Regions from separate parts of the Homo sapiens genome. Here all the other regions are linked to region 1. Evidence: fine-mapped expression QTL. A gene starts in region 1. Each other region holds a variant in brackets. All regions are shown on one strand. Distances are between the middles of the regions. Region 1 holds the start of SUGCT (succinyl-CoA:glutarate-CoA transferase). Region 2 overlaps SUGCT (succinyl-CoA:glutarate-CoA transferase). Region 3 has its middle 49 kb from the start of LINC01450. Region 4 overlaps SUGCT (succinyl-CoA:glutarate-CoA transferase).

Evidence for each region. PIP is the estimated chance that this variant, and not a neighbour inherited with it, causes the effect. A credible set is the group of variants that fine-mapping cannot tell apart.
Region 2: its variant is the best candidate, but not a certain one, in a credible set for the expression of SUGCT in skeletal muscle (GTEx, PIP 0.72).
Region 3: its variant is the best candidate, but not a certain one, in a credible set for the expression of SUGCT in whole blood (INTERVAL, PIP 0.66).
Region 4: its variant is the best candidate, but not a certain one, in a credible set for the expression of SUGCT in adrenal gland (GTEx, PIP 0.79).

What each region holds. Positions count from the first base shown.
Region 1 is chr7:40,131,622-40,137,983 of GRCh38, reverse strand. SUGCT (succinyl-CoA:glutarate-CoA transferase) reads right to left here and starts at 2,979. Exons shown (of 14, transcript NM_001193313.2): 1 at 2,864-2,979. The coding sequence starts at 2,963. MPLKIP (M-phase specific PLK1 interacting protein) reads left to right here and starts at 3,362. Exons shown (of 2, transcript NM_138701.4): 1 at 3,362-3,755; 2 at 4,725-6,362. The coding sequence starts at 3,417. The coding sequence ends at 4,925. RefSeq lists silencers at 2,907-3,106, 3,567-3,636 and an enhancer at 3,287-3,356.
Region 2 is chr7:40,582,253-40,588,614 of GRCh38, reverse strand. The region is part of intron 12 of SUGCT (succinyl-CoA:glutarate-CoA transferase); the gene reads right to left. The region is part of intron 3 of LOC105375244 (a long non-coding RNA gene); the gene reads left to right. Among named protein-coding and RNA genes, the nearest start is that of SUGCT-AS1, 38 kb to the right of the region's middle. The variant G/A (reference allele first, on the strand shown) is at 2,913.
Region 3 is chr7:40,927,726-40,934,087 of GRCh38, reverse strand. It overlaps a transcript of SUGCT not described here. Among named protein-coding and RNA genes, the nearest start is that of LINC01450, 49 kb to the left of the region's middle. The variant A/G (reference allele first, on the strand shown) is at 3,370.
Region 4 is chr7:40,748,094-40,754,455 of GRCh38, reverse strand. It overlaps SUGCT (succinyl-CoA:glutarate-CoA transferase), which reads right to left. Exons shown (of 14, transcript NM_001193313.2): 13 at 4,959-5,022. Among named protein-coding and RNA genes, the nearest start is that of SUGCT-AS1, 200 kb to the right of the region's middle. The variant T/C (reference allele first, on the strand shown) is at 3,798.

The sequences.
Region 1 (6,362 bases):
GGCTGGGGCACAGGGGGCTCATGCCTGTAATCCCAGCACTTTGAGAGGCCCAGGTGGCTGGATTCTGTGAGCTGAGGAGTTCAAGACCAGTGTGGGCAACATGGCAAAACCCCATGTCTTCAAAAAATACAAAAATTAGCCAGGCATGGTGGCACACACTTCTGGTTTCAGCTACTTGGGAGGCTGAGGTGGAAGGATTGCTTGAGCCCAGAGAGGCAGAGGTTGCAGTGAACTGGGATTGCGCCACTGCACTCCAGCCTGGATGAAAGAGCAAGACATGTCTCAATACTTAAATAAATAAAAAATATATAGAGAGAGTATACTGCTATACGACAGAAAAACACAACTCAAACTTTTTTATTGGTCACTTTTATCTTGCTACAAAATGTACTACTAGAAGCTTAAAAAGAGCATGGCTTTTGAATTTTAATAAATTTTAGTGAACTTTAGTTAGATTGAAGTTATACAGATAAATGGGTTGATGGAATAAAGATCTATATACTCATTAGGCGTCCATCAGTTAAACTGTTTACTATTAAATTAATTTGTTGGTTGGGCATGGTGGCTCACCACACCATTTAATTGCAGAGTTTTGGGAGGCCAAGGCAGGAGAGAGGAATGCTTGAGGTGGGGAGTTCTGGGAAACACAGCAAGACCCTGTCTCTACAAAAAATAAAGAAATAAAAAAATTAGCCAGGCATGGTAGCATGAGCCTGTACTCCCAGCTACTTGGGAGACTGACGTGGGAAGATCACTTGAGCCCAGGAGGTCGAGGATGCAGTGATCTGTGATCTCACCACCGCACTCCAGCCTCGGTGACAGAGTGAGACCACCCCATGTCCATAATAATAATAATAAAGTTAATTTTGGTCCCCACCACTCTCACTTTTCTGCCCCCTCCCCTGAGTAGACTGGCTGATGATCTAAAAGGTGAAAATTACCTATGTGATGTATGTGAACCTTTTTTTTTTCCAGTGGGGTGGGGGGGCATGATAGGGTCTCGCTCTGTTACCCAGGCTGGAGTGCAGTGGCACAATAGCGGATCACTGCAGCTTCAACCTCCTAGGACTCAAGCCATCCCACCTCAGCCTCCCAAGCAACTGGGACTACAGGCGCACGCCACCAAGCCCGGCTAATTTTTTTTGTATTTTTGGTAGAAATGGGGCTTCACGATGTTGCCCAGGCTGGTCTTCAACTCCTGGGCTCAAGCAATCGTCCCACCTAGGTCATTTTATTCAATAAATATTCAAATGAGCAATTCCCAAGCATTAAGTTAAACACTAAAGACAATGTCCAGAAAGGTGAATTTTTGGCCAGGACAGAACTACTGTATTTAATAAAGTGGATAGGCTGGAGTCCTCCGACCTTAATTGTATCACTAAGCCTTAATGGCAACGTGCTACCTTGATTAAGTCTATCACTTGTATCTACAGAAGAAACGAAATGTAGTGAATTGAATTTCCACAGAATAAACAAACAAAAAAACTGTCTGTGTGTGTCTCCATTCATCAAGGAGGATAGAAGCTGAGAAGATACCACACTCGTCAGCTTGGGATGTCACAGAACATGTCAAAGAGACAGCGAGGAGTAGCAGCTACAAGAGGGTGAATGGAAATCACAGGTCCAGGCTACCCGTTAGGCTATGATTTAATGAGTCCTAAAGCTCTTTTAAGATTCTGTATCCTACGCCAGGCGCGGTGGCTCACGCATGAAATCCCAGCACTTCGGGAGGCAGAGGCAGGCGGATCACTTGAGCCCAGGAATTTGAGACCAGCCTGGCCAACATGGTGAAACCCGTCTTTACTAAAAATACAAAAAAATTAGCCGGGCATGTGGCACATGCCTGTAATCTCGGCTACTCTAGAAAGCTGAGGCAAGAGAATCGCTTGAACCCGCGAGGCAGAGGTTGTGGTGAACCAAGATCGCGCCACTGCACTCCAGCCTGGGCGACAGAGCGAGACTGTCTCAAAAAAAAAAAAAAAAATCCTGCATCCTGCAACTAATTTCAAGATTCATAGTGGGCCGCGCGCATAATCATAGAGATTACGTCTGTAATCTCAACACTTTGGGAGGCCGAGGCGGGAGGATAACTTGAGGTCAGGAATTCGAGACCAGCCTGGCCAATATGGCGAAACCCCGTCTCTACTAAAAATACAAAAATTAGTTGGGCGTGGTGGCGCATGCCTATAATCCCAGCTACTCGGAAGGCTGAAGCAGGAAAATCTCCTGAACACGGGAGGAGGAGGTTGCAGTGAGCCGAGATCGCGCCACTGCAGTCCAGCCTGGGCGAGACAGCGAGACTCCGTCTCAAAAAAAAGAGAAAAAAAGAAAAAAGGAAAAAAAAGATTCATAGTGGATTACCATTCCCAAATTCAGAGGGAGTAAAGAAAGTTCTATAACACTGTAGTAAAGCTAAATTTCATCCTCTAAATAAAATTCTGCAACAGGTAACTGTACAAGGGCATCTTTTATTGTACATGAAGTGTCAAGTTATTCAAAGCAGCGGGCTAAAGTCCTTTCTGAAATGTGGCTTGGTGTGCATTTTCGAAGTTACTTAAACTTGGCGGACGAAAGGACAGGAGTAAAGAGGCCCCAAACGCGAGCCGCGGGACGCGCAGGAGCGGGACCCCACGGCGCACGGAGCCCTCGGTCACAACAACGCACGGGACAGAGGCGACCCTGGGCGGCCAGAGCGGGGCAGGCCGGCCGCAGGCCCACGGAACGGGGTTGCAGGGAGGCGAGCAAAGCCACCGCTAAGGGGTCAGCAGAGACTTCAGACCCTAATTGCTCTCCTCAGGGCGCCCGAGGAGGCAAGCTGGGGCAGGGATCCCTTTAGCCACCCAGACCGAATCTCGGAGGGTACCTGACTGCGGGCGGCCAGTCCACAGCCCCCTCCCGCCGCCCCGGCCGGAGAAGAGGCAGGTTCTGCGCAGAGCTGCCACCCTCGCCAGCGTCGCCAGCATCGCGTGCGTCTCAGATGGCATCGGTCCCGGTGCAAGCGGCGAACTCCGTGCGGCGCCACCCGCCGCCACTGGGGGGCGCCCACGGACGCCGCAGACCCCGCCCCCGCCGGGCGGGGCTGAGCACTAGTCGCCTGCTGGGCCAGCTTCTAGTCTGTCGGTCAGACCAAGGGCACTCAGACTGGAAAGGTTGTTGCTGGGCTTGGGTGTCCGTCCTTTCCTGTCTCCTTTTCTTCCTCTTTTCACTTAAATCCACTGAGTCTCTCGCCAAGTCAGTGATTTAGGTAATCCCGCCGCCCCTGGCGGAACCTTTGTGACGCCGGAACTGATGTGCCGTAGGGTGGCTGCGGTCGGAGGACTGTTTTGGTAAAGGACTAGCAGTTCTCTGCGGAGGGCCGGTTGATACAGTTCCGGTGGGAGAACGCGGCTGCGAGGTTTTCGGCTTTGGCTCCTGATATGCAGCGACAGAATTTTCGGCCCCCAACTCCTCCTTACCCTGGTCCGGGTGGAGGAGGTTGGGGTAGCGGAAGCAGCTTCCGGGGAACCCCGGGCGGGGGCGGACCACGGCCGCCCTCCCCTCGAGACGGGTACGGGAGTCCGCACCACACGCCGCCGTACGGGCCCCGGTCTAGGCCGTACGGGAGCAGTCACTCTCCGCGACACGGCGGCAGCTTCCCGGGGGGCCGGTTCGGGTCTCCGTCCCCTGGCGGCTACCCTGGCTCCTACTCCAGGTCCCCCGCGGGGTCCCAGCAGCAATTCGGCTACTCCCCAGGGCAGCAGCAGACCCACCCCCAGGTAATAATAATAGCCAGCGTTTGCCGAGCTCTTACTTTATGGCAGGCACGGTACTAATATTCCCTTTACGTGGATTATTTTGTCTAATCCTCTCTGAGGTACTATTGTTAGCCCAATTTTGCAGATGAGCGAACTGAGGCTTAGAGAAGTTGAGTGACTTCCGGAAGATTATCCGAAAGAGTGGCAGAGCCGTACGTTCTGTTTTCGAGCCCTCGTGCTTTTAACCAATACACTGCCACCCGTACACAGATTTTCCTAATTCTCCATTTCCTCCTGTTTGCCAAAGGCCTTGCCAGTTTGTTTCAAGAAATAGTTCTTTTTCTTTTTTTTTTTTTTTTTTTTATCTTTCTTTCGAGCTACACTGGCTTCTGCTCCAACTTCCCTGAAAAGAAAATCGGTGGTAGTGGAAGTTTTCCATTCCTTTAGTGAGAGTAAATACAAAAGACAGAGAGAGTATCTCTAGCATGTCTGGGATTTCTGTGGTTTACAACTTGCAACTACGTGGTTTTCCAACTTGCTGTATTCTACACCAACCCCCTACCCCTTTTGAGCCTGGAGCTAAGGAGTAAAGAAAATGTTCATGAGCTAGAAAGGTTCTAGAAACTTTAAAACTATAGTATTGTTTTCTCCTGAAAAAAGTGAAAATTTCGAGGGAAAATTGAATATAATTACTTGATTTCATCACTGCTTGTATTTAATTACTGCAAAGTTACTACATTAGACACAAAAGTATTTGAGATGACAGTGGTCATGGAATTATAAATAAATGAGAATAACGAATTGCTTTAAGTACTTTTTTTAAAAAATAGGAACACTTGATTAAAGGAAGCATGGACTTTGTAATTGAACATTATTTAGGTTCAAGTCACAACTTTTAAGCAGCAATGTGATTCCCGCTAACCTTTAGCTAAAGGAAGAAGTACCAATTATCTTTACTAAGTGTTTTTTTAACTGATTTTTTTTCTAAAGGGTTCTCCAAGGACATCTACACCATTTGGATCAGGGCGTGTTAGAGAAAAAAGAATGTCTAATGAGTTGGAAAATTATTTCAAGCCTTCAATGCTTGAAGATCCTTGGGCTGGCCTAGAACCAGTATCTGTAGTGGATATAAGCCAACAATACAGCAATACTCAAACATTCACAGGCAAAAAAGGAAGATACTTTTGTTAACATTTCTGAAATTCAACTGGAAGCTTCATGTGTCAGGAACATCTTGGACAAAACTTTAAGTTGTGTTGATATAAATTTACCCAAAGATGATGACTTTGATTGGATAATTAGTAAGGTCTTTTTGTTATTTTTCATCGTATCAGGTATTGTTGATATTAGAGAAAAAAGTAGGATAACTTGCAACATTTAGCTCTGGAAGTACCTACCACATTTTAGAGATTTACCGTTTCCATATATTTAACATTCCTGGTTACATAATGGACATTTGTCTTTTAATGTTTTTTCAATGTTTTAAAATAAAACATTTTGTCTTCTAGCTATTGTGGTTTTGTGGTATGATAAAGAAGTAGACTTACTACAGTAATGCTTTGTAGTCACTTAGAGTTCATAGGTAAATGTTTTGCAAATTATTTTTGAAAATGAAATAGGTAAACCATCCTTTGAGCTGTAGACAGCTCTGTATTTGTTCGTAAATAATGAGGATGAGAATAACAGAGTTCTGTTCATACTCATTTTATCTAATGCTTCTGTTAAAATGCATTAAAACTTGAAGCCCCAGAAACCCATTTAAGCATAACTTTATACTCATTTAACTGGAAAAGGCAAGAATAGACCATGCATTGCTAAATCAAAGTGTTCTATCTGAATTTCTCTATACCTCTTAGCATTATGGAGTTAGTTTCTCTTGAGGCCAAAGAAGATAGCTACCAGCAGCCTCAAATCACTTCCATTGCAAAAAGAACATCTCTCATCTCCATCAATCCAAGAGAAGACAAATTTGCCATACTTAGATCATGTTTCTGTATTATTGAACCAATTAACTGTGGCCAAGGCCACAGTGAGACCTAATTAACTTGAATCATGGACACATCACCATAATGAGACAGGATTCTGTGACCTTGAACACCACTGGGCCTACCTGGAGTAGAGAAGTGGTTTTCCAAATTAAGGGATGCTATGGATATATACCTATAGTTCTGGAGAGAAAAATATGGAAGAATTGTTACCCCAACTATTTTTTAAAAATCAAGTGGTTTTTTGTTTGTTTTTTGAGATGGAGTCTGTTGCCCAAGCTGGAGTGCAGTGGTGCAATCTTGGCTCACTGCAACCTTCGGCTCCTGAGTAGCTGGGACTACAGGCACATGTCACCATGCCTGGCTAATTTTTGTATTTTTAGTAGAGACCATGTTTTGTTTTTTTTGTTTGTTTTGTTTTGTTTTTGAAATAGGGTCTCACTCTGTTGCCCACGCTGGAGTGCAGTGGCGCAATCTTGGCTCACTGCAACGTCCGCCTCCCAGGTTCATACGAGTCTCCCGCCTCGACCTCCTGAGTAGCTGGGAATACAGGCACGCGCCTGGCTCATTTTTGTATTTTGAATAGAGATGGGGTTTCACCGTGTTGGCCAGGCTGGTCTCGATTGAACTCCTGGTCTCAAGT
Region 2 (6,362 bases), 450 kb before region 1:
TAATCATTAATTAATATTGTTTATAGTTCTTTATTAAGATTAATCACTCTTGAAACCTAAAACTCTAATCGTTAGAAATGTGACCATGGGAAAGTTAGAATTCTGTATGTCACCTCTTCAATTATAAAACACAGATAACCCCTTACCTCCTGTAGATAATGGACCAGGAGAGTTAATACTTTGAGGTCCTCTCTGCCTAAAAATTATACTAATCTATAGTTTTATGAATACATAACAAAACTAGTGAACACAGAGTGATATAAGACCTTCAGGAAGTTTATTTCGCATGCAGCGCACCAGCATGGCACATGTATACATATGTAACTAACCTGCACAATGTGCACATGTACCCTAAAACTTAAAAGTATAATTAAAAAAAAAAAAAGAGAATTTTCTTAGAAATACAAAAGGAGGGCTGGGCGCAGTGACTCACACCTGTAATCTCAGCACTTTGGGAGGCCGAGGCGGGCAGATCACTTGAGGTCAGGAGTTTGAGACCAGCCTGGCCAATTGGTGAAACCCTGTCTCTACTAAAAATACAAAAATTAGCCGGGCATGGTGGCACACGCCTGTAATTCCAGCTACTCAGAAGGCTGAGGCAGGAGAATCGCCTGAGCCTGGGAGGCGGAGGTTGCCATGAGCTGTGATTGCACCACTGCACTCCAGTTTAGGCGGCAGAGTGAGACTCTGTCTGGAAAAAAAAAAAAAAAACAGAAAGAAAGAAGAAAAAGAAATATAAAAGGAGGATATAAATATATCTGTTTAAAAGATATCCATTTTACTGTTGTCTCATACAAGTGATTTATATAAGTGAAATATGAGTGAAAATGAAAATTCCATTATGTATTGAAAAATTTTAAAGCAAGCTTTAAAAGGATTGATGATTTCATATGGTAGCTATTTTCATTTAAACACAATAAAAGGAAAATGGGATAAGTCATATGACATCTTACCAATCATGTTAATTAAAACATCACTTCCTCTTTCACCTCCAACTGCTTTGCCATGGCAATGACAAATAAACACTAAATTGAATAAACATTTAATGTGTCAACTCATGTTAAATGCAAATTTAACTGCTTTAGGTACACACACACATCACTTTTATGAATTTTTAATTTCTACATCATTTTTCTATTATATGTGTTGTATATATTTATATATCTATCATAAATATGAAGACATGTTTAGACACAAGAATTTTAGAATTATTTATTTTTCAAAATAGCCTGGTTACAATAACTTAACATATTGAGAAAATAAACTTGGATCTACTTGTAAGTCTGTCTTTGTTTATCATTCAACTTTACTGATGTGCAATTTATATACAGTAAAATTCACCCCTTTTTGTTCACAGTTCTCTGAGTTTTGACAAATGTATAGTCATGTAACCACTACTACCATCAAGATACACACTATTTTCATCATGTCCCCCAAAAAATCTGTTGTGTCTCTTTATAGTTAATCCCTGCCTTTCACTGCCAGCTCCTGGCAACTCCTGAGCCTGTTTTCTGTCTCTATAATTTTGCCATTTCTAGAACGTCATACAAATGGAATATACAGTATATAGCTCTTCACCTCTGGCTTCTTTCACTTAGCATAATACATTTGTGATTCATCCATGTTGTTACATATATCTGTAGTTCTGTTACTTTTCAAATTTGTAAGTGGTATTCCATTGATTGGATGTATTCCATTATTTGTTTACTCATTTACCAGTTAAAAGACATTTAGGCTATTTCCTACTTGTAAGTCTTTCTAAACATGGCAGATCATAAGGCAGCACAGTATTGTGGTTAAAAGCTTAGGTTTTTGAGCTAGACAGATATGAGTTCCAATCTCAGGTCCAATATCAACTTGTACCTTTGAGCAAATTACTTATATTCTTCGAGTTAGAGTATTGTTGTGAAGATTAAACTAGTATGTGGCCTGTAAATTGGTAAGTGTCTGCTGTTATTATTACTACTGTCCCTAGTGCTCAAACTCTGCTCTACTTCCAGTCTTGAAACTAATCCCAAATTTAACACTGTCAATCACCTCAGAGCTTTTACTATATTCCTTACTTAAAACACCTCACCCCTTCTCTCTGCTTCCCTTCTGCAAGACCCAAGTTCCTCTTCCTCCAGGAGGACTTCTCTAACTCACAGTTCACATTTAGATTGCCATTCTGCACATTCTTAGAGCATGCATCATCCAGTCTGGCAGCCACTACTTACATGTGGCTTTATACATTTAAATTAATTACAGTTAAATAAAATTTAAATCCAGTTCCTCAGTCACAGAAGCCACACTTCAAGTGCTCAAGCAAAACGGCTAGTGGCTGCCATATTGGGCAATGAGGATATAGAATATTTTAATCATCATAGTGATTTCCATTTTAAGTTCTAAGTTAAAAACATTGCCTAACACTTAAAACTATATAATTCTATATAGAACAGGAAAAACTAATAATTAGCAGACATCGACTGAGCTCCTATTCTGTGCAAGACATTCTACCTTAAGCAATGATACAGCATCTTTTAGGGGATCTTGAACCACCTGGACAATTATATTAAAAAAATTTAAAAGAAGAAATGATTACCAAGGTCTGGCAGGTAAAAGAAAAAAAATAATAAGTCATTGAAATTTAGAAGTTGGCCAGGCACAGTGGCTCTCACCTGTAACCCTAGCACATTGGAGGCCAAGACAGATGGATTGCTTGAGCCCAGGAGTTCAAGACCAGCCTGGGCAACGTGACAAAACCCTCATCTCTACAAAAAATACAAAAATCAGCCAGGTGTGGTGGTGCACACCTGTAATCCCAGGTACTTGAGAGGCTGAGGTAAGAGAATCACCAGAACCTGGGAGGTCGGGACCACAGTGAGATATAATCACACCAATACACTCTAGCCGGGGTGCCAGAGTGAGATCCC[G/A]TCTCAAAAAACAAAACAAAAAAGTTTAGAGGCATGTGTGGTGGCTCACGCCTGAAATCCCAACACTTTAGGAGGCCAAGTGGGGTAAGATGGGTTGAGCCTAAGAGTTCAACACCAGCCAGGGAAACATATCAAGATCTCGCCTCTACAAAAAATAAAGTAATTGTCAGGGAGGCTGAAGCAGGAGGATCCACTTTGTCAAAAGATCTACAGAATCACAAAACGATGTTCTTCCTAGATTTGTCTCAAGCTAAAGGTGTCTCAAGGAAAAAGTAAGCTTTTAAAGTCCAAACCTTGAATGAGAAAATAATTGTGTTTTCAGAGAAGAAGGCAAAACAAAGACGACAACAACGAAACCTGACTGCTGGAAGACTCATTTCAGAATATACCTTAAAAAGCCACTATATGTCTCATGAATCAATCCAGATACTATATCACCCACCCCTCTGGCACAAGGTTATGACTCACTGTCTGAAACCACAATGCTTATAGAATCCTCAAACGTTCAAGGATAACTACATTTGGTTCAAGTCAGCAATAGAAAGGGAGCTCATTAAGAATTCCCCATTTTCCCCACTACAGTCCCTTACCATTAGAATCCACCTACAACTGCCAGAGCTGATGGGATCATTCCAATTTCATCTTCTCAAGGAGGATTCTGAGAACTATTGAAGGGTGAGTTTAAAGGTGAATCATCAAAGCCAGTTTAAATGTTTTGAAAAGATTAAGGCATGAAATTATCATTTACAATGCACTTGCCTTAGAAGATCCTGGTTTTCTACTTTTCCATTTACACAAGAATGTCAGGAGATCCTCCTGAGAGGAAGCAGAATGTTAAGATACCCTGGGAAGTCAGAGTCATTACTATCACTCCCAAGGCAGCTATAATGGCAGGAGAAAAGTATCCAGTGTAAATAGTTCGCCACAGTGGAGCCTTATGTTACTGTATATACAACATGGGATTTGGAACAATATCCATATGCCAATCCCAGCTCTATCACCATCTAGCTCTATCACCTCATTTAATTCCTTAGTTTCTCCTGTCATCAGTTTATTCATCTGTAAACTGGGGTAACACTGTCCTTAATTACTTTGATGGAGTGTTGTGATGGTCAAATGAGATAATGGCTGGGAAAACACTTTGCAATCTGTAGATCACTATGCACATGGGAACTATTATCTGGTCTTTTCCCCTAAAACACTGCTCCTTGGAGTTCACTTAGCCTGGGATTTTCCAACTTCACTTCTAAAAGAACATTTTTGGAGCTACTCAAATGAAGACTTAGACAAAATATGAGTATCTGTTTTCTGCTTTTTTTCTGATCCAAGGAACTTTCTTCCTTTCACAGATTTAGCTCTTTATGTCATTAACTAAATTTAAATCATGCCTAAAGACTTACTTGTTTGGCAGCACAGTTTCATATCCTGTTTGGTTTGATTTTTAAAATTCTTTTGTAAAGCACTCCAAGATGTTTGCATGAAGATCACTCAACAAATGGAAGCCTCTCTCGAATAATACACACACAAGGACACACCCACATCAATGAGAAGAAACATAATACAGACTTTTGTTAACTTGATAAAACAAGTGCTCAAAAAACAATTCCTAAAATTACATTCGACGCCACACTGTATGACCTTTTCTTGACTGAGAGAGCCTTAACCCTGAACTGACTTGGAAAGCTAAGGTAATCTGGTAGAATTCAACTCCACCAACTTATATAGAGAGATGTAAGTGTATGCTTCAACATAGACACAATATTTTCCATGAAGCAGGCATCCTGGCAAGTAAAAATTCCCTCGTGTTTCAGCATGTATCGAGAGACTAACCATCAGATCCTGAACTGGGTTACATAAGCACAATACCCTTATTGTTAGCAGCTGTGTATTGGTCAGCATTGCACAACTGACCAGGTGCATGGCAGGATGGAGTTTTGTCTTTATCCAAAGATTCAGAGTAGATGGGCTCAGGACTTGCTCTATGATGGCAATATATTAATTCCAAGCCATCAGGATTATTATAACCCATAAGATACTTTGCCAATTTATGCATATGTGGTAAAAATTAAGGCATGTAGTAGATGCCAAAAGAGCCATTGGTTTAATGTGGAAACCTTCTTTTCAATTCTGAATGTTTAAGAATTCATTTTAAATGTAATTGTCTGGATGTGAAGGTAAAATAATTGACTCAATGACACTAAATATCATCATACAATTCCAGGGAAGACATATTTAAACTACCAACGGAAAGGATATGTGATTTTCAATGATCACTTTAGGATAAAGGTATAACACTAAAAGTATTCATTAGAAAAGCCAAGGAAAGATCAATCCATACAGGAAAGAAGAGTTTCTAAAATTGAAAAAAAAAATTGAAAAATCTATCTCCCTCTATACTCAAGAAAAAACTTCAATCACTTGAAATTAACAATGAAGATTCTGACTTTTATATTGCCTTATGACAGGATTTCAAAGGCTGTTTTCTCACCTTTGCTCTTTACTTGAGTTTAAATACTTTAAAGTATATTTTCCTTTACGGATGTACCACCCCATTCAATTCATTTGTTGATTTCAAAATGAAATCAACTAGCTTCCAATACCAGCTAGTTGTTATTTAAGGGTACTGTGTTGCAAGGCAAATTATTGAGCTGCTAGTTTTTGTGTTCTGTATTTTCACAGTCAGTTTTTGCTATTACGCTGATTTAATTTTTAAGAAATGTTTACTTATACATAAAACACAACTGATCCAAAATTGCTTATGAAAATAAATGACAATATTTAGGATATACTAATAATACCAGCATTACTATTATAGAAAATGCCCTGTATTGACATTATTAAACCACTTTTCTAAACTTTTTGGATACAGAGCTAATATATACTGACTATGTGCTCTGTGACGGCCATGGAGTTAAGGGCCCACCCAATGAGGAAGCTACGAAGAGTTTCCTTAATGTATAGATGAGGAAGTTGAAGCAAAGTCATTAGAGAAAGCTGAAGTTATCGACGCCAGAGCACTTGCTCTGCACCAGCAACCTAATGATGAGGATGTTTGAAGCTGCAATTAACAGAGGATGAGGAGGACTTCTGCTCCAGCATACGAAGAAAGGAACTCCATTTCCAAGTTTGGGCCACAAGCTTACCTTCAGTACAGGTAAAAATAGTGTCTACAAATAGAAGATTATCAAATACCCAAATTATGAATTATGTTTATGGGACTTTTATTAATGAAAAATATTCAACTCAAGACCCTGTGCCTCAATTATAATAGTGTAGTGGCAAAATATTGACTCATTTCAGTTCTGCCTGTGAAATAATAATGGAATTCAAATATCTCATTGTTGAGAGACACTAAAACCAGTACACAATTTGTTAATATGCCCTCAGTTAGGAAATCACGTACAGATTATACCAACAAAATATGCACTTCACCGTACTGCAAGTAACACC
Region 3 (6,362 bases), 800 kb before region 1:
ACCAAAGGTAGATAAAACCACAAAGATGGGGAGAAACCAGAGCAGAAAAGCAGAAAATTCTAAAAAGCAAAGTGCCTCTTCTCCTCCAAAGGATCGCAGCTCCTGGCCAGCAATGGAACAAAGCTGGATGAAGAATGACTTTGATGAGTTGAGAGAAGTAGGCTTCGGAAGGTCGGTAATAACAAACTTCTCCGAGCTAAAGGAGCATGTTCTAACCCATCGCAAGGAAGCTAAAAACCTTGAAAAAAGGTTAGACGAATGGCTAACTACAATAAACAGTGTAGAGAAGACCTTAAATGACCTGATGGAGCTGAAAACCATGGCATAAGAACTTTGTGATGCATGCACGAGCTTCAGTAGCTGATTTGATCAAGTGGAAGAAAGGATATCAGTGACTGAAGATCTAATTAATGAAATAAAGCAAGAAGACAAGTTTAGACAAAGAAGAGTAAAAAGAAATGAACAAAGCCTCCAAGAAATATGGGATTATGTGAAAAGACCAAATCTACATTTAATTGGTATACCTGAAAGTGATGGGAAGAATGGAACCAAGTTGGAAAACACTCTTCAGGATATTATCCAGGAGAACTTCCCCAACCTAGCAAGGCAGGCCAACATTCAAATTCAGGAAATACAGAGAATGCCACAAAGATATTCCTTGAGAAGAGCAACCCCAAGACACATAACTGTCAGATTCACCAAGGTTGAAATGAAGGAAAAAATGTTAAGGGCAGCCAGAGAGAAAGGTCGAGTTACCCACAAAGGGAAGCCCATCAGACTAACAGCAGATCTCTCGGCAGAAACCCTACAAGCCAGAAGAGGGTGGGGACCAATATTCAATATCTTAAAGAAAAGAATTTTCAACCCAGAATTTCATATCCAGCGAAACTAGGCTTCCTAAGTGAAGGAGAAATAAAATCCTTTACAGACAAGCAAACGCTGAGAGATTGTTGCCACCACCAGGCCTGCCTTACAAGAGCTCCTGAAGGAAGCACTAAACATGGAAAGGAAAAATTGGTACCAGCCACTGTAAAAACATGCCAAATTGTAAAGACCATCGATGCTAGGAAGAAACTGCATCAATTAATGGGCAAAATAACCAGCGAACATCATAATGACAGGATCAAATTCACACATAACAATATTAACTTTAAATGTAAATGTGCTAAATGCCCCAATTAAAAGACGCAGACTGGCAAATTTGATAAAGAGTCAAAACCCATCAGTGTGCTGTATTGAGGAGACCCATCTCATGTGCAGAGACACACATAGGCTCAAAATAAAGGGAGGGAGGAAGATCTACCAAGCAAATGGAAAGCAAAAAAAAAAAAAAAAGCAGAGGTTGCAAACCTAGTCTCTGATAAAGCAGACTTGAAACCAACAAAGATCAAAAGAGACAAAGAAGGCCATTACATAATGGTAAAGGGATCAATGCAACAAGAAGAGCTAACTGTCCTAAATATATACACACCCAATATAGGAGCACCCAGATTCATAAAGCAAGTCCTTAGAGACCTACAAAGAGACTTAGACTCCCACACAATAATAATGGGAGACTTTAACACTCCACTGTCAGTATTAGACGGATCAATGAGACAGAAGGTTAACAAAGATATCCAGGACTTGAACTCAGCTCTGCACCAAGCGGACCTAATAGACAACTACAGAACTCTCCAACCAAAATCAATAGAACATACATTCGTCTCAGCACCGCACTGCACTTATTCCAAAATTGACCACATAGTTGGAAGTAAAGCACTCCTCAGCAAATGTAAAAGAACAAAAATCACAACAAACTGTCTCTCAGGCCACAGAGCAATCAAATTAGAACTCAGGATTAAGAAACTCACTCAAAACGACACAACTACATGGAAACTGAACAACCTGCTCCTGAATGACTACTGGGTAAATAACGAAATGAAGGCAGAAATAAAGATGTTCTTTGAAACCAGTGAGAACAAAGACACAATGTACCAGAATCTCTGAGACACATTTAAAGCAGCGTGTAGAGGGAAATTTATAGCACTAAATGTCCACAAGAGAAAGCAGGAAAGATCTAAAATTGACATCCTAACATTACAATGAAAAGAACTAGAGAAGCAAGAGCAAACACATTCAAAAGCTAGCAGAAGGCAAGAAACAACTAAGATCAGAACAGAACTGAAGGAGATAGAGACACAAAAAAACCCTTCAAAAAATCAATGAATCCAGGAGCTGGTTTTTTGAAAAGATCAACAAAATTGATAGACTGCTAGCAAGACTAATAAGGAATAAAAGAGAGAAGAATCAAATAGATGCAATAAAAAATGATAAAGCAGATATCACCACTGATCCCACAGAAATACAAACCACCATCAGAGAATACTATAAAGACCTCTATGCAAATAAACTAGAAAATCTAGAAGAAATGGATAAATTCCTGGACATGTACACCCTCCCAAGACTAAACCAGGAAGAAGTTGAATCTCTGAATAGACCAATAACAGGCTGTGAAATTGAGGCAATAATTAATAGCCTATCAACCAAAAAAAGTCCAGGACCAGACAGATTTACAGCCGAATTCTAGCAAAACTACAAAGAGGAGATGGTACCATTCCTTCTGAAACTATTCCAATCAATAGAAAAAGAGGGAATCCTTCCTAACTCATTTTATGAGGCCAGCATCATCCTGATACCAAAGCCGGGCAGAGATACAACAAAAAAAGAGAATTTTAGACCAATATCTCTGATGAACATTGATGTGAAAATCCTCAATAAAATACTGGCAAACTGAATCCAGCAGCACATCAAAAAGCTTATCCACCACAATCAAGTCAGTTTTATCCCTGGGATGCAAGGCTGGTTCAACATATGTAAATCAATAAATGTAATCCATCATATAAACAGAACCAATGATAATAACCACATGATTATCTTAATAGATGCAGAAAAGGCCTTTGACAAAATTCAACTGCCCTTCATGCTAAAAACTCTCAATAAAGTAGGTATGGATGGAATGTATCTCAAAACAATAAGAGCTATTTATGACAAACCCACAGCCAGTATCATACTGAATGGCCAAAAACTGGAAGCATTCCCTTTGAAAACTGGCACAAGACAGGGATGCCCTCTCTCACCACTCCTATTCAACAGAGTGTTGGAAGTTCTGGCCTGGGTAATCAGGCAAGAGAAAGAAATAAAGTGCATTCATTTAGGAAAAGAGGAAGTCAAATCGTCCCTGTTTGCAAGTGACATGATTGTATATTTAGAAAACTCCATCATCTCAGCCCAAAATCTCCTTAAGCTGATAAGCAACTTCAGCAAAGTCTCAGGATACAAAATCAATGTGCAAAAATCACAGGCATTCCTATACACCAATAACAGACAAAC[A/G]GAGAGCCAAATCATGAGTGAGCTCCCATTCACAATTGCTTCAAAGAGAATAAAATATCTAGGAATCCAACTTACAAGGGATGTGAAGGACCTCTTCAAGGAGAACTACAAACCACTGCTCAACAAAATAAAAGAGGACACAAACAAATGGAAGAACACTCCATGCTCATGGATAGGAAGAATCAATATCATGGAAATGGCCATACTGCCCAAGGTAATTTATAGATTCAATGCCATCCCCATCAAGCTACCAATGACTTTCTTCACAGAATTGGAAAAAACTACTTTAAAGTTCATATAGAACCAAAAAAGAGCCTGCATAGCCAAGACAATCCTAAGCAAAAACAACAAAGCTGGAGGCATCACGCTACTTAACTTCAAACAATACTATAAGGCTACAGTAACCAAAACAGCATGGTACTGGTATCAAAACAGATATACAGACCAATGGAACAGAACAGAGGCCTCAGAAATAACACCACTCATCTACAACTGTCTGTTCTTTGACAAACCTGACAAAAACAAGAAATGGGGAAAGGATTCCCTATTTAATAAATGGTGCTGGGAAAACTGGCTAGCCATATGTAGAAAGCTGAAACTGGTACCCTTCTTTACACCTTATACAAAAATTAATTCAAGATGGATTAAAGACTTAAATGTTAGACCTAAAACCATAAAAACACTAGAAGAAAACCTAGGCAATACCATTCAGGACATAGGCATGGGCAAGGACTTCATGACTAAAACACCAAAAGCAATGGCAACAAAAGCCAAAATTGACAAATGGGATCTAATTAAACTAAAGAGCTTCTGCACAGCAAAAGAAACTACCATCAGAGTGAATAGGCAACCTACAGAATGGGAGAAAATTTTTGCAATCTACCCATCTGACAAAGGGCTAATATCCAGAATCTACAAAGAACTTAAACAAATTTACAAGAAAAAACAAACAACCTCATCAAAAAGTGGGTGAAGGATATGAACAGACAGTTCTCAAAAGAAGACATTTATGCAGCCAAGAGACACATGAAAAAATGCTCATCATCACTGGTCATGAGAGAAATGCAAATCAGAACCACAGTGAGATACCATCTCACACCAGTTAGAATGGCAATCATTAAAAAGTCAGGAAACAGATGCTGGAAAGGGTGTGGAGAAATAGTGACACTTTTACACTGTTGGTGGGAGTGTAAATTAGTTCTACCATTGTGGAAGACAGTGAGGCGATTCCTCAAGGATCTAGAACTAGAAATACCATTTGACCCAGCGATCCCATTACTGGGTATATACCCAAAGGGTTATAAATCATGCTTCTATAAAGACACATGCACACGTGTGTTTATTGCGGCATTATTCACAACAGCAAAGACTTGGAACCAACCCAAGTGCCTATCAATGATAGACTGGATTAAGAAAATGTGGCACATATACACCATGGAATACTATGGAGCCATAAAAAAGAATGAGTTCATGTCCCTTGCAGAGACATGGATGAAGCTGGAAACCATCATTCTCAGCAAACTATCACAAGGACAGAAAACCAAACACCGCATGTTCTCACTCATAGGTGGGAATTGAACAATGAGAACAGGGTGGGTAACATCACACACCGGGGCCTGTCAGGGGGTGGCGGGCTGGGGGAAGGATAGCATTAAGAGAAATACCTAACGTAAATGACAAGTTGATGGGTGCAGAAAACCAACATGGCACATGTATACCTATGTAACAAACTTGCACATTGTGCACATGTACCCTAGAACTTAAAGTACAATTTTAGATAGGAAGAAAGAAAGAAAAAGAAAAAGGAAAAAGTAGAGTTTTGCCGGGCAGGGTGGCTCATGCCTGTAATCCCAGCACTTTGGGAGGCCAAGGTGGGCGGAGCACAAGGTCAAGAGATCAAGACCATCCTGGCCAACATGGTGAAATCCCAGTCTCTACTGAAAATACAAAAATTAGCTGGTCATGGTGGTGCGTGCCTGTAGTCCCAGCTATTCAGGAGGCTGAGGCAGGAGAATTGCTTGAACCTAGGAGGCAGAGGTTGTAGTGAGCCGAGATCACGCCACTGCACTCCAGCCTGGGAGATGGAGCAAGACTCCGTCTCAAAAAAAAAAAAAATTAGAGTTTTACTGTCCTCAAAGAAACAAATGCTGGGATACTTTACATTAAAAATGTGAAACAAAAACTGAAAGAACAAAGCAATTGCAAATATAGAATAATCATTTAAAAATATTATAAATGGAAAAATACATTTATCGAAATAAAAAGAAACAATAGAAAAATCACCTCCAGATATGATGGTATAAAAGTGAAAGTTAATTAAGTGAAAGATAGTATTCAGGAATTTGCCAAAAATAAAGCAAAAAAAGGAAAAGATGTTTTAAAAACTGAAACTAGTGAAGAGATAAGCTAAATAGATTGAGAAGTTCCAACATATGTCTAATAGAAGTTCTTGTAAAAGAAATGGAGTGGATGTTGAAAAAGAAACATTTGAATATTTTTCATAATTGAAGAAATCCATAGGTTTTTATAGGGAAAATGTACTCTGAGTACTGAGGAAGTTAAATAAAATTAAGGAGAAATGGGTGGGAAAAAAAATAAAAATAATTAATTTAATTAAACCAACAGCTAGGCATATCTTTGGGAAATTTTAGGAAAAAATAAATAATATAAAGAAAAGAGAGATTACTTTCCAAGGAACAATTTGACTACCACTAGAGATTCATTAGCAACAATAGATTCCAGAAGAAAATGAAATTATATCTTTTTAAATGCCAAGGAAAAATAATCATTAAACTAGAATTTTATACCTAAACTCTCATGTATGAGTAAAGACAAATAAAGGTATCTAAAGACATAAAAAGACTAAATAAATTAACTACAAACATACGAGCTCAGGCAATGATTCTAACTTCTCACAAATTTTGAATGATATGCAGGAAACACAGACATTTCTATATCCCATTTTAGTGGTGTTACATGGAGGCTCCAAAAGG
Region 4 (6,362 bases), 620 kb before region 1:
TTAGTTGTCGGGGGCAGGGGAGGGAATGTTTGAGGTTTTAGCACTCAATACAGGTTATATTAATTAAGAGCAAATTAGTACATTGTGCCTATCATGCTGACACTTCTATCATTAAGCTAATGGTGACCTCAAACTAACAACCACTTCCCTCACTGAGGCCTCTTAGAACACCAGAATGTTAGAGTCTGGCAAAGAGTCACATAATACCTGTTCTCACTTATACACCCATTGATAGTTCATTTTTCTTTGTCTCTCTTCACTTTTAACTGTATAATAGGCTTTAAAGTTCAGATGAGGGAGTACTTTAATGAATAATATACTAAATAAAGAACAATAGCATTAGCATAACTAAAACTCACACTTAGAGATAATTCATGGGCTTAACTAGTTTGCATGTTTTAACCAGATCATCTGTAAACACAAATTACATTTCTTTCCTAACTCTTTATTATAGTTTGAAGATGATAGAGACTCATATGAAAGGGAGTATTTGCAACAGATATAATAAAGGAAATAGTTTAGATGATACTACTTATTGTATTTTAATAATGGTAATGATTACAAAGATTGAAACAATGTACTAAATGGCTGAAATAATTATTTTCTTTAAGTAGCCAAAAGGGATTTTTAAGAGGTAAATAATTTCCTATCCTTGTCCAAAGTATATTAAACACGAGTTGACCAGTATCTTTAATGTATTAATCAATAAGCTCTCATCTGAAGGAATGCTATGTGGATTTATACAACTCTAAAGAAGGCTCTATAAATATCACATGATTTACTGCTGTTTTTAAGAGACAAGTTTCTGGTAATGACTAAGAAAGTGCTTCAGGCAAATTAGTGTGACATACAGAAAATTCAGTACTGGTTGCAAGAAGTTCATAAATAAGGCAGGAAATATAAATAAGTAGAATAATTTGGAATGGTAATAAGCTGGTAATGCTAATAATGCTAATAACAATCCTAATAAGGATTGTTACTGTAAACGTGAAGATGTGGATATGTATGTGTAAATCTATAGAACTATGTCTAGCAAATTCAAAATGTGTCTCCACTAGTTAACCAGAAAACAGTGTAGCAAAAGTCACCTTTAACTGTAGCTTGTGTTTCTTGTTTTGGCAGACTTACCATATTGAGACATTCTGAGGAAACTGAGTTATGTCTATAGCATTTATGAGTTCTCCAATGGGAACATCCCCAACAAAGAAAGGCAGAACTATCATAGGTAAATAAAATCAAGGACAGGTAGAATCCACAGACAAATTGTAAATTATATTACTGATACATTCCCTTTGCATTTAACAACTCTTGTCCTGTTTATGTGGCCTCTTATTGGGATATACTGAATTAGGAGATACAATAGCCTCTTTTTATCTGACATCTGTAAGCAGAATTGTCATTCCCCTCTCATGAGGAATTCAGATGTGCTGCACTCAAAACACACTCAGATTCTAATTCCAAACATTAACTAGACTCATGCATTTCATCTCAAATCTGGGAATTCCCATATTGATAATTCTATAGAAAGAATACAAGATAACAAGATAGACATACCAAAAAGATGACTAAGCCCTATAAACACTAAACAAAAATAGAATTTTCCAAAGGGAGATTAAAACAAAAAAAGGAGAAAGAAATTGCTGTGGATCTGAGAACTCTGTTGTAGTCAAGTGAATTTTTTACTCCAATTATTTACTTCTCCCTGTGCCCATGCTCCTCACCATATAACTTTGAAATTTCTCTCAGAAAGGGTCACATGTATTTCCCCACCCTTTTGGATACAGCCTAAAACTTGCTTTTGCCCGGGCACAGTGGCTGACATCTGTAATCCCAGCACTTTGGGAGGCCGAGGCAGGTGGATCACCCGAGGTCAGGAGTTTGAGACCAGCCTGGCCAACATGGTGAAATCCCGTCTCTACTAAATATACAGAAATTAGTTGGGTGTGGTGGTACGTCCCTGTAATCCCAGCTACTCAGGAGGCTGAGGCAGGGGAATTGCTTAAACCTGGGAGGTGGAGGTTGCAGTGAGCTGAGATTGCGTCACTGCACTTCAGCCTGGGCGACAGAGTGAGACTCTGTCTCAAAATAAATTAATTTAAAAAATAAAATTTGCTTGGACTAATAAGATGCAGGCATAAGGGTTTGCCAGCTGTACACCAACATCTTACATAGCACTGTGGTTTCTGCTTGCCCCAGTGTTCTGCAGCCATGACCGTCAGAAGAGTAGGAGAGACACACGGATTAGAAATGACTCCAAGCACAGGCAGGAGCTAAACCTGGCCAGACCTGGAACTAGAAGCAAAGCTACCCAGCTGAGCCCAAACTATATGAAACATCCCAGCTAATCCACATGCATGGGATAAACAAATGCTTATGTTTGAAAACCATTAAGAGCTTGAGGTTATTTCTTACACAGCATTCTTGTGACAATGGCTACCTGATACATTGATAAATTAAAGTGGGCAAAAGAAATATTCTTCCCTTCTAGTAATCTGTAAATAATACTTCCCTCCTGCTGAGATTTAGCTTTCGTTCACTTACAGTGAAAGTCAGCAAATTACGCCTGACTGAAAGAGTGTTACCTCCAATGAGTTCATTCTTGGTTGGCCACTGACTTACTTTTTTCCTCATTATCATGCTGACAATCATATTGACTTTCAAATGCTTACCCTTTCTCTAATGTGTTGGGGATACCAACCCCTGTATGACCTCATCTGTAAACTTGTGGGGTTAAGTGATCACTGGTTCTTCAGGGCCCAGACTTCCAAGGAGAGATGTGTGGAAGACCACAGCATGGTGGGCAGAGGAGGAAAGCTAAACAATAGGAGTGCTAACCTATCAATCAGCCTAACTCTGCTTCCATCTGTGTTAGCTACGGATTCTTCATGTGGAAAATCAGTTTTACTGTATAAATATCAAAAACTACTAGACCAGATGTTTTCTAAAGATCTAATACTCAAAGACTTATGATTACATTTTTTATTTTAACCACCCCTTCTTTTTATTTCTATTCCCATGACCCTAATTTAAGACACTATCACCTAAACTCCTGTATCACTTCCTAACCTGACCGCCGGCTTTAAGCTGTAAATTGTGTGATTTTATTCCCCTACTTAAAACGAGAGAAAACACAACTTTAACAGGGCCCCCAGGCTCTCCCTACCTCTCCAGTCTCATTTCCTGCCCCACTTCCCCACCTTTCATCCTGGCTTAGAACACACCCCACACTTCATCACCTCGGGGTTTTCTCCCATGCTGTTCCCTCTGCTGGAAATGCTCATCCTCTATTCGTTTTGCCCCTCAGTGTCATGTTATAAGTCTGCCTCTCAGAGAGACTTTCTTCGATCACCTAAACTACAGAAGGCCCCATCTGACCCCATCATTCTCTATGACAGCACATTCTTCTTTCTTTCTTTGCACTTATGACTTACAGTTATAGAAACATTTGTTGGTTGTTATATCATTCAACTTTCTATTAAGTATCAGTTCCAGGTGGCCAGGGGTGAAGTTGTCTGGTTTATTTTTGTATTTTTAGGACCCAAAGCAGTACCTGGCACATAGTATATACTCAGTAATACAGATGAGTGGATGAACTGATGAACTTCTTAGCTTTTGTCAACATTTTTTTCTACCACTTTTCTATACCATATAACATTTCCCTAGAACATGTGATCTCAGTTTTTCATTTGCTTATACCTGCTCTCTTAGTTACCTTCCTTAATCCATGCATAATATTCCTTATGTTCTTGAACATTAGAATTTTCTCTTCAACTTTCTTTATTCATCATACTTCCCTC[T/C]TCTTACTCTTTTCATGCGCGAGTGGTCACTATCTGGTAGGTTATGGGAGATTATTATAAAGCTGATCCCAAATCTTAGATTCTATTTAGGATAAAATTAACAAGAATAGTCCTTCAATAAATGAGATCAGATGCCTGTAGAAGTAAATACTCTATGCCACCTGACTGAGGTGACTGAAGAGTTTGGCAGATACCTAAATTCCAAGTAAGATGGCCAGGAAACGGTTTTAGGAAAAAACAATAACAAAAATTATATCCTAGCTAATTTCACTGACCTCCATCAGAAGAAAAGAAAAAAAAATAAGTGCTTGGTTTGTGTTTAGTCTAGAAAATATGGACACAATGAACAAATAATTTGGAACTCCATTGCTGGAATGTGGATTTTCCAGCGATGCCTGGAATAGAGAAAAAACATATCTGATAAAGGTAATATTGTGATTATCAGAGAAATGGAGGCTGTGGGAGGGAAATGTATTGGTCACAAGCTCTCACTGCAGTTTAAATGCACCACTTAAGAGGATGCTTTGAGAGTAGGCATGAGGCTACTGGCTGCTGAAATAAGAGCTCCCTCTGCAAGTAAAGAAGCTGGCATTTCGGCTTAGGCAGCAGTCTCTGGTGAGCTGGTTTAGTATGAATCAACTTCCAAAAATTCAATCTATTCTGGGTGTACTGAAAACATTTAGTTTCTTGTTCTGTAAAGCCAAGATCCACACCTTAAACCACGGTTCTGAAAGAAAATGCCCGAGCCTGAGCAGTCAGTAGCCTTCCTCGGACTCCAGTTACATCTTGCCTGGCTTTCTTTCCAATTCTCATATGAACGACACTCTATTTCTTGTTATTGGCCATACCTATTACTATCAACCTGTTGATAATTACATGATGTACTTTTGTGAGCACGTGATTACACAAAATGGAATTAAGAAATGCGAGCATTTTTTTGTCATCGTGGCAATCCGACACTCCTTAGAGCTAAGACACAATGCCATAGTCTCAGCATACATTTTTGTGAGTGCAGTCCTAGGATTCCCCTTTTACCCAATGTTATAAATTTGGATAATGTCTTGGAAAGTTGTTTGGGAGCTCATAAGCTACCTGTAGTAAACAGCATATGGGACAATTAATAAAGAAAGGTGCTAGAGAAAATACCAAAACTTTTCAGACCTGGGACGGAAATCTTCCCCACAGTTGGATGCTCCATCTCCATAACGAGGCCATTGTGTAATACCTGAAAAGGCAAAAACAGAGAGAAAAATAATTTACAAAATAAAACCATCTTCAATTGCAAGGCATGGACAGCCATCTATTCAGTCGACATCAAAGAAAGATATGGCAAAACACAGAAGTGTTTAACATTTTCATTTGAAAGTAAACATTTGACATAAAAATAACGTTTCATCCTATAATACACCAAATGAAGCCAAAAAAGACTAGAGGATTCACGGACTAGAAAACATTTCAATAAGACCTTCCCACTCTTAAAATTTTTATTTGCTCCTAAATATAGCAGATGATTTCCTCTCTTTCATTTATGGATGCTCCCCTAATATTAAAGCTCAGCCTTTTCCTGCATAACCTTATGGCAGGACTCGGCCAAGGTCAAGAAATAGGACCTCAAACAGAGCAGCACACTGGGGTGGTACACATGCTCCTGGAAATCTGTTCAGCAGAAGGTATGGGGAGTCAGTCCAGTTTGAAGAATAAATCAGAGTATCCAGAAGGCTCGGTGACTGCTGGAGGTGGAAGGATTCAGGGCTGCTGTGACAAGCAAATAAGCAGCTGACAGCAAATCCAGAGGAGACCCAGGTCAGAAGCAAGCACAGGGAAGCTGAACCAGGAACATTTTCAATGGTGGCCAAGACCTTAAGCATAAGACTAGAGTTCAGAAACAGGATTCCAGGATACTGGAGTAAAAAAGCCAGAGACTTCATCCCAGAGGGCTGATTAGGTTCTCATGCAATGGTGAGGCAGGAAATTTAAAAAATAATAATAAAATAAAATAAATTTTTCTATATTAAATTAATTTATTTCAAAGACAACAATAAGTATATTTTTATAAATTCTTATTCTCTATAACTAATAACTTCAAATATTCTATTTTCTCTAAAAATACAACAAAAATCATAAAAAAACTAAACAAACCTAAAACTACAACTATTAAACACCATAATAAAAATTATAAAATAAACCAATACAAAACTCTTTAAAACAAAACCTAAATAATAAACATCTAAATTAGTTAAAAACAATCATATACAATCATAAATTATAAACCTATTACAATTTAATTAACTATCTTTATCCTGCTTCTAGATCCCTACTTTCACGCCACTATAAACTTACTTCAAACTAACCCACCCCCTTTTATAAAATATACATAAAAATCAAATACTATCTTTATTCTAAACCCAATCTTTAAACATTAAATCTACTAAATCTAAATACACTCAGTAATAAAAATACCCTCCTACATACACCCCAAAGTCTCTCTCTAATCCTCCTAATCCCACAACAATGGGACCGAGATAGGTATCTAGTGTCCCACCAAGAACACAAGGTAGCTTTGGC